2 separate regions of the Homo sapiens genome follow, and region 1 is linked to region 2. Evidence: fine-mapped expression QTL. A gene starts in region 2. The other region holds a variant in brackets. All regions are shown on one strand. Distances are from middle to middle. Region 1 has its middle 35 kb from the start of TAFA4. Region 2 holds the start of TMF1 (TATA element modulatory factor 1).

Region 1 (8,339 bases), 85 kb after region 2:
GTTAAATGTCCCCAGGTGGTTCTGATGTACAGGGGTTGGGAACTGCTGTTCTGGAGACACTGATGAAGCTGGTGGCAATAGACAGTTCATGAGGTCTAAGCCAGAATTTGCCAAAGTATCTTCCACTGAGTGTCCATAAGATGTTCCACAAAAAAATGGGTTACAGCTGGGCGTGGTGGCTCATGCCTGTAATCCCAGCACTTTAGGAGGCTGAGGCAGGCTGATCGCGAGGTCAAGAAATCGAGACCATCCTGGCCAACATGGTGAAACCCCGTCTCTACTAAAAGTACAAAAATTAGCTGGGCATAGTGGCATGCACCTGTAGTCCCAACCACTTGGGAGGCTGAGGCAGGAAAATCGCTTGAACTTGGGAGGCAGAGGTTGCAGTGAGCTGAGATCCCGCCACTGCACTGCAGCCTGGCAACAGAGCGAGACTCGGTCTCTAAATATATAAATAGTTATTTGATAAATGCTTCCTTAAGTCAATTTAAAGCAAGTTTATTGCAGGACTTCTCAGCACCTTTGATGTATGTGCATTGTGAATCTCTAAACAGGAAGATGTCATATGCACTGTATGCAAGTTTATTTGACCATGGAATCTTTTCTTCAAGAGGTATGAGGATTGGTGTTGCAAGAATCCCACTCCAGGCAGGCTACCCTAAGCATTTGCCATGGCTAAAGCCGCCTTCTGGGGAAAGGGGGACCAGGCAGTGCCTTCACCATGCAGTTGTTCTGGTCAGTTGCATCTTATTTGTTGAGTTAAATCAACTGTGATACCTGGTTCTTGTTAATTGGACCAGGAATCAACAGCTGAGCCAAAGTCTATTCAATCAAGAGGCTGCGAGATAAACGGTAAATAAATGACCCATCCAGAGCCATTCTGCTGGGGACATTTGAAGGTGAGGTGCAAAGAGAATGCCAAAGTTCCTGGGACAAAGACACCAGATCTGAGCTACTGGGGTTCCTCCTCTATGGGGTACAATTATGAGTCACTTTCCAGTTATCCATGAAGCTGCTAGTACATTTAGGTTATGGATTGGATTAGCTCATCCTTACAATCTGAAAGAACTTCACTGCTACAGCAATGCCAACACTGCAGGTATTATTCTCCCCATACTACACCATGGAGATGCAAGCAAACTAAGGTTGAGGGATTTGGACCTTTGTTGTCTTACTCCAAGTTGAATGCCAGCCAGTTACATCACTGTGTTGTTGCCTCTCAAGCTGAGGTCATTCAATCAGCAGGACAAGAGTAGGCAAAAAGTAATCGTAGTTTCCAGAGAAATCTGGAGAGTAAATGGCAAGGACACAATTCAGCGGAAGTGTCTCCTGTCTTGGGTGGAAATCCAAGTCGGGCACAGTGTTAAGTAAAGGTGCCAGCAAAATCAGGCCAGTTTGATATAAGGCCATTGGATGAGGAATCAGCAGGTAGGGGATGAAGTTTAAGGTGACTGTTGCAAGTCCCAGAAGAAAACCCGAAGTTAAAGTGGTATAGCCATGTGACTAGTGAAGCAGGTGACTAGTGAAATGAGAGTAGTACTAGGGACACATTGAACAGACCTAAGGTGAGGCAGGGAAAGGCCAGGATTAACATTTGAAAGCCAGCTAAAATAAGGCAGGATGAGGAGGAAAATGGAAAAACTAAGGAAACAAGTAAACATCATCCATAGCAACCCTTCAAACCCTTAAGGCACGTGGAAAATGGGGAGAAAAGAAAGCAAGTACTTATTCACAGCAAGGGCAATTCTACATTGATGGGAAAATGTAAATCCTCTAGAAAAATATCTTTGTCTACATATCGTTTTTCAAATATTCAAGTGATATTCAGCAATGTGCTGGGAGAGAGTTTACCCATGAGGCATTTAGAAGTGTTTATGGTTCACCTTGCAGAAATGAGACTGAGAGGTTTTCTTCCAGTTGCTACAACTGCTTTTCTGTAAAATTAGAAGTAAGATGTGATGATGGAGCATCTCATAGTACATTATTACCAGATTCTGAGATGGAATTTTGGTTTTCCCTCTCAGGTATCTCTATGCAAATAAATTGCCTTCAGAAATCGCTTTGTTATTCTATCATATTTACTTTTTACTAGATTATATGTTACTGGAGAGTCTTGCTCTTGATATTCAGATAGCAGTCTATTGGAAAGAAGAGTTTTATGGTGGAAGCTACGTGGTGCAAGCAATAAATCTAGAGGACAAGGGGATAAAAGTCATACCCATAGAAAGGTGCCCATTCTTTGATGGTTTTGCTTTTAAAGTAGTGAAAAGGGCCATAGCTGGGAAATATGCTCTCCTTCTCTTTGTCTTTCTTCTCCTTCTTGTTCCTTTCTTCCTCCTCCTTCTGTTTAATTCTAATAGCACTTAAAAGTCTGTGGTGTAAAAGTCTGCTTTCCTGTTGGAACTTGATAGCACCCATCAGCCAGGAGTCCTGCAGAAATGACTTGACTAGTTGCTTCTTAGGTAACAGCATCTTGTCCAAGTGAAGACCCCTGTGGTAAGACATCGTAGCAGAATTTGGATTTACTCTGTTGGGATCTGTGCCTGACCCTTGGAAGAGAACCCAAGTTAGCCTGAAGATAACACCCGCTTCACCCATTAAGACATCTTGACATCCACCGAGAGTCTTCCATAAGGTAGTGAGTGATGTTTGGCAAGTGCATGCAGATGACATCTTGACAGAAATTAGAGGGGTTTTGCAGACTCATGAGGAGTGGCAGTGTGGGAGACGGGTGAAAGTATGGGCTCTGGCCTCAAATGCACCCCGTGCTGCTACTTTTTACATGTACACCTAAGGCAAACCACTTAAGCTCACTGAGCCTCAGCTTTCTCATCTGTAAATGGAGGGTATTAAGGGACCCAACCTCATCAGGTGGTTGTGAGGAGCTATTTGTTCATTCCAGGTATGAGGCACTCTGCTGAGAACACAATGGTAAGGAATAGGGGAGACTGATATTAGTCAGGTAATCACACAAGTGAGAGTATGTAAGGATAACGGGAGAGAAGTACCCTGAAGGGAAAGAATATGTTGCTAAAAGGAAAACCTTAGCCACATTAAATTTAACAGAGTTTAATTGAGCAAAGGACATTCGGGAATCAGGCAGTCTCCGGAGCCAGAGTAGGCTCAGAGAGACTCCAGTGCAGCCACATGGTGGAAGATTTATGGACAGAAAAAGGAAAGTGATAGACAGAAAGCCAAAGTGAGGTAAAGAAACAGCCAGATTAGTTACAGCCTGGTGTTTGTCTTGTTTTAACATGGTTTGAACAGTTGGCCCCCTTCGATTGCCCCTGTGATTGGCACAAGAGTAGGCTACAATTTGTTTACACCTCCATCATAGGATACAGTTTCCCATCTACGTAGAAACCTTTAGGCTGAACTTTAAATATGTGAGAAGGCAGCTTTAGACTAAACTTTTTTTTTGAGACAGGGTTTCCCTGTGTCACCCAGGCTGGAGTACAGTGGCACAATCACTGCTCACTGAAGCCTCTACCTCCTGGGCTTATGTGATCTCCCATCTCAGTCTCCCAAGTAGCTGGTACTACAGGCATGTGCCACCAAGCCCGGCTAATTTATTTTCTGTTATTGGTGGAGATGTGGTTTCACCATGTCGCCCAGGCTGGTCTTGAACTTCTGGACTCAAGCCATCTGCCTGCCTCGACCTCCCAAAGTGCTGGGATTACAGGTGTGAGTCATCATGCCCAGTCTAGGCTAAACTCAACAATGTTCCTGACCAGGAGAAACGCTTTAGACTGAGGGGTAGTGTAGTCAGGGGAGCTTCTTCCCAGGGAAATGTAAGAAAGCACAATTAATGCCTGGCATCTGGCAAGGCCTCGATAAATAGTAAGGCAGCAGGGAGAGGAGGAAGAGCAGGAAGAAGATGCAGACATATAGGAAGCCAAGGCCATGTGCCCATGTACCCCAGAGAAACCTTTGTGTAGGTGCCAAACTTTAATCTGAGATGCCATGATGCCAATGGCCACTGAGGTCTACAACCCCAGAATGTTTGGCCCTGTAATGGGTTGACAGTCTGAGAGGTAGACCCTCAGTGAGAAGGGTGAGAGCAGATGGCAAATGATGCCCCCCTGGGAAAACTGGCAGATGCTCCAGGGCTGCAGGACTGGAACTTTTGCCTTGTGGTAGTTTTATCAACATCATCTGAGAACTTCACTAACTAAAAAGGCTCTGTCTGCCAACCTTCCTCCCCAGGCCTCAGCATTCTCAGCTTTTCAGTGAGGAGTTTGGACACGTTATCTGAGCTCTAACTATCTTGTCTAGACTTCTGCTCATCAAGTCTATGATGAAATGACAAATTAAATGTGGATATATACAAATATATGCACACATGTGAACTCATGTTATATAAAATAGCCACTTCGTGGCTCTGATGGAAAAATGGTTCTTCTGTGCCTTATCCTAAAGTCTTTATATAAAATGCATGTGTTCTTAACCCCATGTTAGTGGGGGGATTAT[T/A]CATCTACTTGTATTTAGAGATGGGCTGAGACAGAAAGAAATACTCACATAATCCAGTGTTTTCAATGATAGTAGGAAAATGTCTACCAAGAGAGGGGAAACGAAAACTGCCCCCTTTTTTTTTTTGAAATAACAAAATTAAGAAAATTAATTGCTGTTTAGTGGAGGGGGAGGGGAACTCCTGAAGCAGGTGTTATTACTATAATACTCACTACTTGGGTGAATGTGGTAGAGAAAGCCCCTACCTGGAAACCAGAGAAGGCCCTATCTGGAAACCAGAGTCTTTTTTTTTTTTTTTTGTAATTATATTTTAAGTTCTAGGGTACATGTGGACAACGTGCGGGTTTTTTACATAGGTATACATGTGCCATGTTGGTTTGCTGCACCCATTAACTCGTCATTTACATTAGGTATTTCTCCTAATGCTATCCCTTCCTCTGCCCCCCACCCCATGACAGGCCCCAGTGTGTGATGTTCCCCACCCTGGGTCCCAGTGTTCTCATTGTTCAATTTCCATCTATAAGTGAGAACATGCGGTGTTTGGTTTTCTGTCCTTGTGATACTTTGCTCAGAATGATGGTTTCCAGCTGTGTCCATGTCCCTGCAAAGGACATGAACTCATCCTTTTTTATGGCTGCATAGTATTCCATAGTGTATATGTGCCACATTTTCTTAATCCAGTCTATCATTGATGGACATTTGGGTTAGTTCCAAGTCTTTGCTATTGTGAATAGTGCCACAATAAACATACGTGTGCATGTGTCTTTATAGCAGCATGATTTATAGTCCTTTGGGTATATACCCAGTAATGGGATGGCTGGGTCAAATGGGATTTCTAGTTCTAGATCCCTGAGGAATCGCCACACTGACTTCCACAATGGTTGCACTGGTTTACACTCCCACCAACAGTGTAAAAGCATTCCCATTTCTCCATATCCTCTCCAGCATCTGTTGTTTCCTGACTTTTTAATGATCGCCATTCTAACTGGTGTGAGATGGTATCTCATTGTGGTTTTGATTTGCATTTCTCTGATGATCAGTGATGATTAGCATTTTTTCATGTGTCTGTTGGCTGCATAAATGTCTTTTTTTGAGAAGTGTCTGTTCACATCCTTTGCCCACTTTTTGATGGGGTTGTTTGATTTTTTCTTGTACATTTGTTTAAGTTCTTTTTAGATTCTGGATATTAGCCCTTTGTCAGATGGGTAGATTGCAAAAATTTTCTCCCATTCTGTAGGTTGCGTGTTCACTCTGATGGTAGTTACTTTTGCTGTGCAGAAGCTTTTTAGTTTAATTAGATCCCATTTGTCTATTTTGGCTTTTGTTGCCATTGCTTTTGGTGTTTTAGTTATGAAGTCCTTGCCTATGCCTGTGTCCTGAATGGTATTGCCTAGAGGAAACCAGAGTCTTAATGAAAGTCCAAGACTGCCTTTTAAATGCAGGAAAAAAAGTTATTTACACAAATGGTAAGTGCCTAATGCATTAATGCCTAGCTCTGTGGATTGTGACTTCTGTCAGTATTAAGCATTTTGTAGCTCCAGTTCTTAATGTTACTAGGGGCTCTGGACAAGTTTGCTCAGTGGGTCTTACAGCCTTCAGGAGACATTCCCTTGGCTACAGTGGTTCAGATTTGGCCTACCCTGGAGATGCAGAGAAGGATGATCATGCTTTAGGAGCAGAGTATAACTTGGGTATGTGTATATGACCCATTCTAAGGGAAATGGCCCCATGGCTTTGATATGAGTACCTTCTTTTTGTCTTTCTTATCTCTGAGCCAGGGGAGCTGGGCCTCTGAGTTGAGTGCAGTAGCAGCAAATAGCTTCCAAGCCAGAAAAAAATCAAACCCCAAACCTTTCCCAAGTAAAAAGGCAGAATTCTTGGATGGTGTTTTGTTGCAATTATGTCGAAATGTGAATGTGGAATTGTATGTTTTCTTGTTTTTCTTTTTTAAGATGGGGTCTCATTCTGTTGCCCAGGCTGGAGTGCAGTGGCATGATCTTGGCTCACTGCAACCTCTGCCTCCTGGGCTGAAGCCATTCTTCCACCTCACCAGCTGGGAATACAACAGGCACACGCCACCATGTGCAGCTAATTTTTTGTATTTTTGGTAGAGACGGGATTTCACCACAGTCCAGGCCAGTCTTGAACTCCTGAGCTCAAGTGATCCACCTGCTTTGGCCTCCCAAAGCGTTGGGATTATAGGCATGAGCCACCAGCGCCCAGTTGGAATGATACATTTTTAATTATGAGGTGTTATCACATGCACCACAGTTGTGTCTGACCTTAATGATACCTCTGACCTTGCCTCCATTCTTCCCTCCATCCCTAAACCACCATCCTCCTCTTCAGCAGTCCCTGAGCCTGCCCTCATCCTCCTAGTTTTACACACCATGGAAAGAACATTGATGTTATTCATCACCCCTGAAAAATGCTGCATGGAGCCCAAGAGTTACGTGCGATGGTGATGTCAATGGGAACAATTCATTATTCTATCAAGCACTTGGCATGTCAGACAATGAAAAAGTATGTGCTTTAGAACTGACAGCTCAAAGTAGTCTTTTCAGCTATCAGCATGCCAAGATCTTGATGGTATAATGAATTATTCTTTAAACCTATCATTTCATCCTATCAATTTAGTCCTATAGTCTTTTTTTGGGGGGAGGAAGAGGGGGGAAACTAAATTATAGAACTTATCTCAACTAGCAAGCAAAATAACTTTGCACCTGGGAAGAAAAGACTAGAGGTGTGAGAGGTAGAATTAGAAAGAATATTCCTCAGGGATGACATTGAGGTAAATATATATTACAATTCACAGAAGTATGGGAAAAGTCCCTGATTTTTATTTGACTCTTGGGCGTAAAACATAGTTTATTCTCATTGACCACCCGTAGAATTTTCATCCTCATTTTCCATAACAATGCACTGGAAAAATCAGAGACAATTTATTATTCTGTTTACATTGTTATGCAAGCTTGCTGAGCAATATAGTTCCTGATTATTTAGGACATGCAGGTGTTTAGAGTAGTCTTGGATTGGACTTTGAGTTTGGTTGGAAGATCAATTTTTCCCAGTTAATCTCCATATGTAGATAACTTTTCCCACACTTGATGTATGGTTTCCTTACTCTCATGTGGCTAATTAATTCTGTTCATTCTCAAATCTGACCTCTTCAAAGATCTGCACCCATCTCTTCTCCCCTGAGTGTTTTGAGACCAGAGTGAGAAATTCCACAGCTTGCTGGCTTTATGGGGAGTGTTTAGCACGTTGGCATGCATTTCGGGTGACTTCTGAACACGGCACAAAGCATGTTTAGGTTTCAGCTGGTTGCTTTCATCCGAAAATGTCAGCTTTATTTCTAGGAACAGCAGCTGCCACATTTTTTTTTCCCAGAATATCTCTGCTGAAATGCTTGATGTAAATGGTTATTTTCATTCCTGTTAAATAATACCTTGTTGCTACAGCAATGGTCATTTTAAATACCATCACAAAATAACAGCGACACCAATTTGTCCTCAGGATTGGGTCCTAATTGTTCATCCATTGTTTGAAAATAGAGAACTGCCTCATTAATCCACTGCAGAATATTAAGCGTTTCATTAAAATATTGCCCAGAAAGGAGAGTTACTTCAAATCCCCTTCATGTGTCCTTCATAGCCAGCAATATTATCTATTCTGCATTTTTAACTATCAACCTGAAGAAAAATCTGGGCATCCATGACCTTTTAATTTGTGCTTCAAAGAAAACATTTCTTAATGTTATGTAATAAATCAATCATTACTTGCTTAATAATCTTAATGCATGTCTTTGAAGTCAGCAATCCACAAGAGATGCTGGGATTTTTTAGAAATTGGCAACTCTCTGGTCATTT
Region 2 (8,339 bases):
TGCCACTGAGGTTTTTAAAATAGCCACAAGGTAATAGGTTTCATTTTTAATATGCATGTAAATTTATGTTTTGACTTGGTTTAATTATATAAAGATGAACATTTTTTCATTACAGTGCATACATTCCCTTGAATAATTACTTGGTGTTTAATGATGTAGATGGGCTGTATACATACACATTTGAAGCAGAAAGAAAGGTTAGTAGTATTAAGAACACATTTTTGATCATGCATATTTTGATTTTTAAATATTATTGGTTAGAAATTTGAACAAAGTCACCCATACATTTTCTAACTTCCAGAACTCTACTTATTATATATCTTTTGCTTTATAGCCTGAAATAACTCTATAGCGAAGTAATTTACAAGAAATGGTCTATTATGAAAAGCAGGCTTTAAAGCATAAAAATTTTTTTATAGGAAATATGCATGATTATAAAACAACCTGATTTTTATTTTATTGTTCATAAAAGAGACTAATATTGGTGCATGTGCTGCTGTAATTTGTTGTGTATTATGTGTGTAGGAAAACTGCCCAGCTTGTAGCCAGCTTCCTCAAAATATTCAGTTTTCTCCATCAGCTAAACTACAGGAGGTTTTGGATTATCTAACCAATAGTGCTTCTCTGTAAGTATTGTAGATTTTTGTTATGTTGTAAAAATCATTTTTGTGATTTTTGAAACCTTAAAAAAATTATCTTTTGATAAAAATTATGTTTGATACTTCTCTCTCATCATAATCTTTAGGCAAATGAAATCTCCAGCCATCACAGCCACCCTAGAGGGAAAAAATAGAACACTTTACTTACAGGTTATCAATGTGTATTTTAAATTTTTTTCAGAAAATTATATCAAGTTTTATTTTACTTTAATGTGTCTTACATTAAAGTAATTTTGTTTTCTAGTCGGTAACCTCTATTGAAGAACGAACAAGGCCAAATCTCTCCAAAACATTGAAAGGTATTTTACATAAGGGTATTTACTAATCATTTTCTTTCTTTTCTCTCTTTTTGGTGAAAGTAATCAGTGCTTGTTCTAGATTTCCTCTTAATGCCTTGTATATGGTCAGGTAATAATTACTTACAACTTTAGACATATTAATAGAATTAATTGCTCTTTTAGTAGAATATTTTAAAATCTCTAAGAAATCAAATATTACTTTGATTAAAGAGGATTGGATTTTGATGTTTTTCTAGACCGTAATACTCTGTAGTTTGTTTACATGTGTATTATCCTTTCTGTTGAGTTTTTTTTGCTTGTATTAATAATATTTTTTCTGTTTTAGAATTGGGGCTTGTTGATGGACAAGAACTGGCGGTTGCTGATGTCACCACCCCACAGACTGTACTATTCAAACTTCATTTTACTTCTTAAGGAAAATCTCCACATAATAGAAAACTCATGGAAATAATATACTTTGTGGATGCTAAGAAGTTGAATCGATGTCATTTTTAGCAATAGTGTTGCCACGATTTGTCTTTTTTTATATAATGAACCACTCTTTTTTAACTTTGTAACCTTCCCTTGAAGACAGAATTTTGGTGTTGGTGCTTGTAAGCATTTTCATTAATAATATGAGAAATGATACCTGGAGAGAGAGATTATGAGCAAATGTATTGCTTCTTTTAGAGGAGGAAGCATACAACCTCTTTTGTGTGAATTTTGTTATTATGGTCAAAGAATGCATTCCTAAGTTTTCATTTGAGTACCCAAATACACAAAAGGTGTCCCTTTAAGGAAAATAAAGAATTAAGTTTTAAATAACATTACATTTTACAATCTGACATCTGGAGTATATTGAACATAGGCTATTTCTTGATATAACACTCATTTAATTGTGGCCATCCAAATGAATATTATTGCAGAATTTATCTTGTTCATAATGATTTGTAAATGGTGTTATAGCTGAATACCTGTGCATGAAAATGGGCAATATTTTCATCTGTTTACTTGTAGTGCCATAGAGGCCAATATGCACAATATTAACTAATGCCAAGACATGGCTGTTTAAAAAATTTAATGTTCAAACAGTTATCACTGATGCTTTTGCACTATTTATTAATAAAATCATATATTGTGTACTTCTTTCACTGAAGTTTTTAAAAGTACATTAAGGGTAATCAGTAGTTCCATGGTAATATAGGAATAATTTTTAAATGTGTAGCAGAGTTATATCAAATTTTTATTGCACTTAATACTTTTGCTACAGCAATTTCTATAGTAAAAATTTACTGGTTTAATTTAACTTTCTGTATCAATATAATTTTTTTTTTTTTTTTTTTTGCGACAGAGTTTCGCTCTTGTTGCCCAGGCTGGAGTGCGATGATGCAACCTCAGCTCACTGCAACCTCTGCCTCCCCGGTTCAGGCAATTCTCCTGCCTCAGCCTCCGGAGTAACTGGGATTACAGGCGCCTGCCACCATGCACGGCTAATTTTTTGTATTTTTAGTAGGGACGGGGTTTCACCACGTTGGCCAGGCTGGTCTCAAACTCCTGACCTCAGGTGATCCACCCCCCCCCGCCCCCCTCGGCTTCCCAAAGTGCTGGGATTACAGGCATGAGCCACCATGCCTGACCATGTTTTTGTTTCTTTTAAGTGAATAAAACTTCAAACAAAATTAAGTACAAATACTAAAAAAGTAGGTGCTAGTATTTTAATATGAGAACATGTATGTGTTCTCATTCTTTGTTTTTGACTTAGATATGGCAGTTTTCTGTTCAAATGTTTTTTGGTTACTTATGTGTCACTGAGTTAAGTTTTCAGTAATCTTTCTAGCTACATATTGACAAATAAGTTTTATTATAAAACCATACGGAATAAATTTATAAGCTCTACCTGAAAAGTTACAGGTGTAGCTTACAATTTTGAAAGTGAAGGAACTAAAATTTAGCACCATATAGGTGCTATAATAATTCTCAAAGTAGCATTGTAAGAAGGTGACTCTATCTGAGAGCTGAATAAATAGTTTTAGATGGTTTAGGTAGGTCATTTCACCAAAGCTGTACAATTAGAAGTCTTGGAACTGTAACTGTACAGCTAATTTCAACCCGAATCTGCCCCAAATCTCCTCTGCAGACTACTTAGCTGTTTGAAAGTACTTGAGTTACTTGGTACTACTTGTGTACATGACTAAATTGTTAGTTTTAACATGCAAGTTTTTACTGTAGTTAGATAAAATTATTGGAAGATGATTATAACTTCTTAAGGGGTTCAATCTGATTTTTTAAAAGAAAAATAATTCTTTTTTGCAGAGTTCCTTGCAGTGGGGTAAAATATTCAAATATGGGAGGCAGGCATATAAGGTAAATAATCACAGCAGGGAGGGTGTAATAGGATGAGTGATAGGGGTCTGTGGCAAACTGGAGTGAGTGAAAATTATTTGGTGACCACTCTGGCTGACTATTCCCATGCTTGGTATTCATATTTTTCAAAAGCAGCTGGAAATCTAGATTTTTGAATGAAATCTGGCTTTTAGTTAGGATTTTGTCTTTAACTTGGGCCCAAACCAAATATAGCTGCAGACTGGATTAGGAAGGCCACCAATTTAAGGTATTTTCCCATGTCCAAATGTTCGAAGAGAATGCACACAGAAAAGGTTATGTTTTAAGTAATATGCACAGTGCACATTGTTAGGATAACAGCTTTAGTGCTTCCTAGGTGTCTTAGTCCATTTGGACTGCTGTAACAAATTGCCATAAACTGGGTGGCTTATAAGCAGTAGCAATTTGTTTCTTAACAGTTCTAGAGGCTGAGAAGTCCAAGATAAGGAGCCGGCAGATTTGGTGTCTGGTGAGGGCTGCTATTCTGGCTTAGAGTTGGTGCCTTCTTGCCGTGAGCTCCCTTGGGCCTCTCTTATAAGGGCACTAACCCCATTTATGAGGGCTCCATCATCATCTAATCATCTCCTAAAGGCTCCCCTTAATACTGTCCCATTGGAGATTAGGTTTCAACATAGGAATTTGTGCAGGGGACACCGACAGACCACAGTATTAGGGGTATTTTGACTGCAGCAATGAGTTTACTACTATTTTGAGAGAGAGGTTGTGCTTTATGCACCATGTGTTCCACGAGTTGGACACAGTGTTCATACGTGATCCTGTCTTTTAGGCAAGCCCAAACAAGTGTTTCTCCTTACAATACCAAGTTAATACAGAGCTTATTAAATATTTGAGACAAAGGGCTAAGAGAAGTGTGAGGCCCAATTTCCCTTTGCAATTATTGCTGGCAAGGTGCAAGCTTTTAGCACGTGAACTATTTTCCTGGAAAGCACACACACGAAAACTTGAATATTCCTTCCGGGGAAATCGACCTCTATCGGTAGCCATAGCTTCCCCTTCGCTAAGAACTGCTGTAAGCACGAAATCGACATCAATAGAAACCCTTCCGCGTTCCTCGGTAACTAACGGCAACCCTGCGCTCCCGGATGTGACGTCAACGTTCTTCTGTTCTTCCGTCTGTCGACCGAACTCTGGGCTCGTAGATTTGGTTGCTGTGTACGTGGAAGAAGCAAGCGCATGCGCACATGGGCCCCCTTCGTCTCAGCTGTGCGGGAACGGCCGAGGGTAACATCCCGGGCTCGCGGGAGGCTGTCGGGGTAATGGCCACACGCTGACAGAACCAGCCGAGTGGAAAAGGGGAGCGAAGCCGTTCCTCTGCACCCTTCCCCAGGCCTGAGGCCTTCCCGCTTGGTGCTGCCGCCGCCACTGCCGGCTGAGGAGGGGCGATGAGTTGGTTCAACGCCTCCCAGCTCTCCAGCTTCGCTAAGCAGGCCCTGTCCCAGGCCCAGAAGTCTATTGACAGGGTTCTGGACATCCAGGAAGAGGAGCCGAGCATCTGGGCCGAGACCATTCCGTATGGAGAGCCGGGTAAGAGAGAGAGGAGCGGGGTTCCTGGCTCCCGGAGGCTGCTGTTCTCTTGATGCAGGCAGGTTAAGTGGTGTAGAGAGGGGTCCTTCCTTGCTGAGAGAGTTTTCAGGAAGTAATTTCTCCCCGGCCCGTTCCCTAATGCTGCTTCAGCCTCCAAGTCGGTCTTTGCTGTTTTCCTGAGGGAAAACCCAGATCCAGGTTCCCCCTTGTCTTTCTTTGGTCCTGGGTGCGAGGCTTGTGGACTTGGATGACAGGGGACTTGGTTGGTTGGTCTTGCCCTCAAGCTCTCCCTCGACGCAGCTTCCAAGCACAACCTTCCCGAACCTGAACCTCGAATTGCTTCGCGTCTCGGGCACTGTTGGGATCCAAGGTCTGAAGTACGTAAATCATCAGGGAAGGGAAGAACAATCGCTAACAGTCAGTGAACATTTCGCGCTTGGTAGCGCGTAATGTGGTTTTATGTTGTTGTTGAGACGGAGTCTCACTCCGTCGCCCAGGCTGGAGTGCAGTGGCGCGATCTCGGCTCACTGCAACCTCCGCCTCCCAGGTTCTAGCGATTCTCCTTCCCCAGCCTCCCTAGTAGCTGGGATTACAGGCGCCCACCACCACGCCCGGCAACTTTTTGTATTTTTAGTAGGGACGGGGTTTCACTATGTTGGCCAGGCTGGTGGAACTCCTGACTTAAGGCGATCCACCCACCTCGGCCTCCTAAAGTGCTGGGATTACAGGCACGAGCCTGTAATGTGCTTTTTTATGGCCTTCTCATCTTCAGAACAACTCCCAGAGAGAGCTTGGTTTATATCCGTGTTTTACATAAGAGGAAAATGAGGCCCAGAATGGCCAAGTAACTTGCTCTAGGTCACACGGCGGAGGAGGATTAGAATGTGCCGGAGGTATTAGCCGGAAAATGTGTGACCCAAGATTTCTGGATGGTATCACATTTTATTTCTGAATAGCCAAGTCTCTCTTTGCAGTTTCATTGAGCTTAATCTTTCAGGGATCTTCATTCAGTTGCTTTTGACTCTTAAGTCTAAGGAACAGTTCAGCATTTGATGTGTGGGGTAAAGATTTGCTGGTGTTGGGGGATGTGAACCTTTGTGTGAAAAAGGATAAGAGATGTACTTGACTACTCCTTTCTGGTTTCTGTTCTTAATTTTACATCATTGAAAAGTCAGGACCTAAATTTGAGGTACCTCAGTTTAAGATATTTTGGTCCATGTGTGTATGTGATGATCCTCTTTACTTTTTACAAGATGTCATATAACCTTGCTGGAGTAACTCTGTTTTTTCATATGTGCCCCAGTTAATTAGAATTACTAAACTTTAGATAAGATAGAATATAGGTTTTACATATAAGGATATTTGTTTTCGGAAAATGCCCATAGTCTTCAGAATGGTATAATTTAGATGGATACCAAATAACCCTGGGATTATATAAAGTATTCTCCAAGAGGCAAAATTAATTCCTGTCATCTTTTGAATGTATTTAAATTAATCAGACATAATCTTGGTTGTTCATTTGCATATTTAATTTTGATTTTCTCTGGTTTGGATATTGTGCAAATGAATGTGTAGAACTATGCCTCCAAACTGAAGTTTTCTACATACTTTTCATCCTAACTGCCTTTGAAGTCATACATATATTTACATATATATATATTTGTTTTTTTGTTTTTTTTTTTTTTGAGACACAGTCTCACTCTGTCATCCAGGCTGGAGTGCAGTGGTGCCATCTCTGTTCACTGCAGATTCTGTCTCCTGAGCTCAAGTGATTCTCGTGCCTCAACCTCCCGAGTAGCTGGGATTGCAGGTTTGCGTCACCACACCTGCCTAATTTTTGTAATTTTAGTAGAGACAGGGTTTTACCATGTTGGCCAGGCTGGTCTTGAACTCCTGACCTCAGGTGGTCCGCCCGCCTCGGCCTCCCAAAGTGCTGAGATTACAAGCGTGAGCCACTGCGCCTGGCCTGAAGTCATATTAAAGGATAGATTCTACTATAAGGCTTGATAGTTTTTAGAAGCTTTTAGTTACTTGTGCTCTCTCCACCAACTTCTAATTGTGAATATTTTGTGAATATTTTGTTCAGCCACATTTTAATTTGAAAAAGAAAACATTTTTAAAGAAATGCTTTAAATACTTTAACGAATATACCATTTTTAAGATCCTGATTATGCCATTTTTAAAAATCAGGATTTTAGTAGTAGCTATTTGTATGACTGATATGATAATTAACTTTTTCCCCAAGAAAACAGTCATTTTCTTTGTAGCGCTTTTTTAAAAACCCTAGTGTCAACCACCTCTATGTCAAAGAGCAATAGTTCTTAAAAAAACACACATTTCTGAAATTTATAATGACCTTGTAATTTCTGACATAATTTAGAATTTGAGAACAAAACTTCCTCTTAGAGTGGGCTTGGAGAGTGGGATTTAGAGAATCAGCCTGTGATTAAGTGGATGAAAATGAATTTGTTCTCTAGAACTTACCATTCCCATCAGTTTAATATGATCTTCGGGAAAGAACATTTGTCACCATTATCTTGGTTTGAGGCTTTTGTTGTTTTGTTTGTTTTCGAGACAGGTTCTCGATCTGTCACCCAGGCTGAAGTGCAGTGGTTTGATCATGGCTCACTGCAGCTTCCACCTCCTGGGCTCAGATGATCTTCCCACCTCAGCCTCCTGAGTAGCTGGGACCACATATGTGGGCCACCAGGCCCAGCTAATTAAAAAAATTTTTTTGTAGGGACAGGGGTCTCACTATGTTGCCCAGGCTTGTCTTGAACTCCTGGACTCAAATGACTCTTCTAGTGTTGGGATTATAGGTGTGAACCTCCATACCCACTGAGTTCAGTTTTTGAGTGTTGCCCTTTGTCTAGCTCATAACTATATTACTGATATTACAAGTAAAAATTAATATGAAACTGACTGAATAGGTAGGGTCATTTTTCTGTGACTGCACATGGCCCAACCTATTCAGTTAGTTCCATATTAGTTTATTTCATATTGATAAGTAAAGCGTGTTATTATGAGATGAATCATAGGTATCTTGGACTTACTGTGGGTTATAAAACATATACTGTTACTTCCTTAATTTGTTGTGGGGAGGAATAACATACTCGCATCTGGTAGTCCAGGCCAGGCCCAGTCTTTTGTCTGTGCTCCTCCTTCCTCTCAGGTGGACCCACACCAGTTTTCTTCCGTAAGTCCCTGTATTAACTTGGAAACTACTTAATGATGTAGTAAGCAAGGAGTTTAGCAGGTGCAAATTACAGGTATTTCATAGGGTATTTTTTCTAAATTTATATTTATACTGATTTATAATGATGATTGAAATATTAATGTAACATATATGTGTTCTTTTTTAATATTTACTTTTTTGTTAAAGGAATAAGTTCCCCTGTCAGTGGAGGATGGGATACTTCAACCTGGGGGTTGAAATCAAACACTGAACCTCAGAGTCCACCAATAGCCTCTCCTA

Evidence for each region. PIP is the estimated chance that this variant, and not a neighbour inherited with it, causes the effect.
Region 1: its variant is fine-mapped to the expression of TMF1 in lung (TOPMed, PIP 0.99).

What each region holds. Positions count from the first base shown.
Region 1 is chr3:68,963,551-68,971,889 of GRCh38, reverse strand. No RefSeq gene overlaps it. Among named protein-coding and RNA genes, the nearest start is that of TAFA4, 35 kb to the right of the region's middle. The variant T/A (reference allele first, on the strand shown) is at 4,471.
Region 2 is chr3:69,048,470-69,056,808 of GRCh38, reverse strand. It overlaps TMF1 (TATA element modulatory factor 1), which reads left to right and starts at 4,476. Exons shown (of 17, transcript NM_007114.3): 1 at 4,476-4,864; 2 at 8,247-8,339. The coding sequence starts at 4,723. UBA3 (ubiquitin like modifier activating enzyme 3) reads left to right here. Exons shown (of 18, transcript NM_003968.4): 13 at 1-30; 14 at 116-197; 15 at 526-626; 16 at 746-809; 17 at 904-958; 18 at 1,284-2,079. The coding sequence ends at 1,372. It overlaps MIR3136 (microRNA 3136), which reads left to right and starts at 7,774; the gene lies at 7,774-7,851. RefSeq lists an enhancer at 4,415-4,884.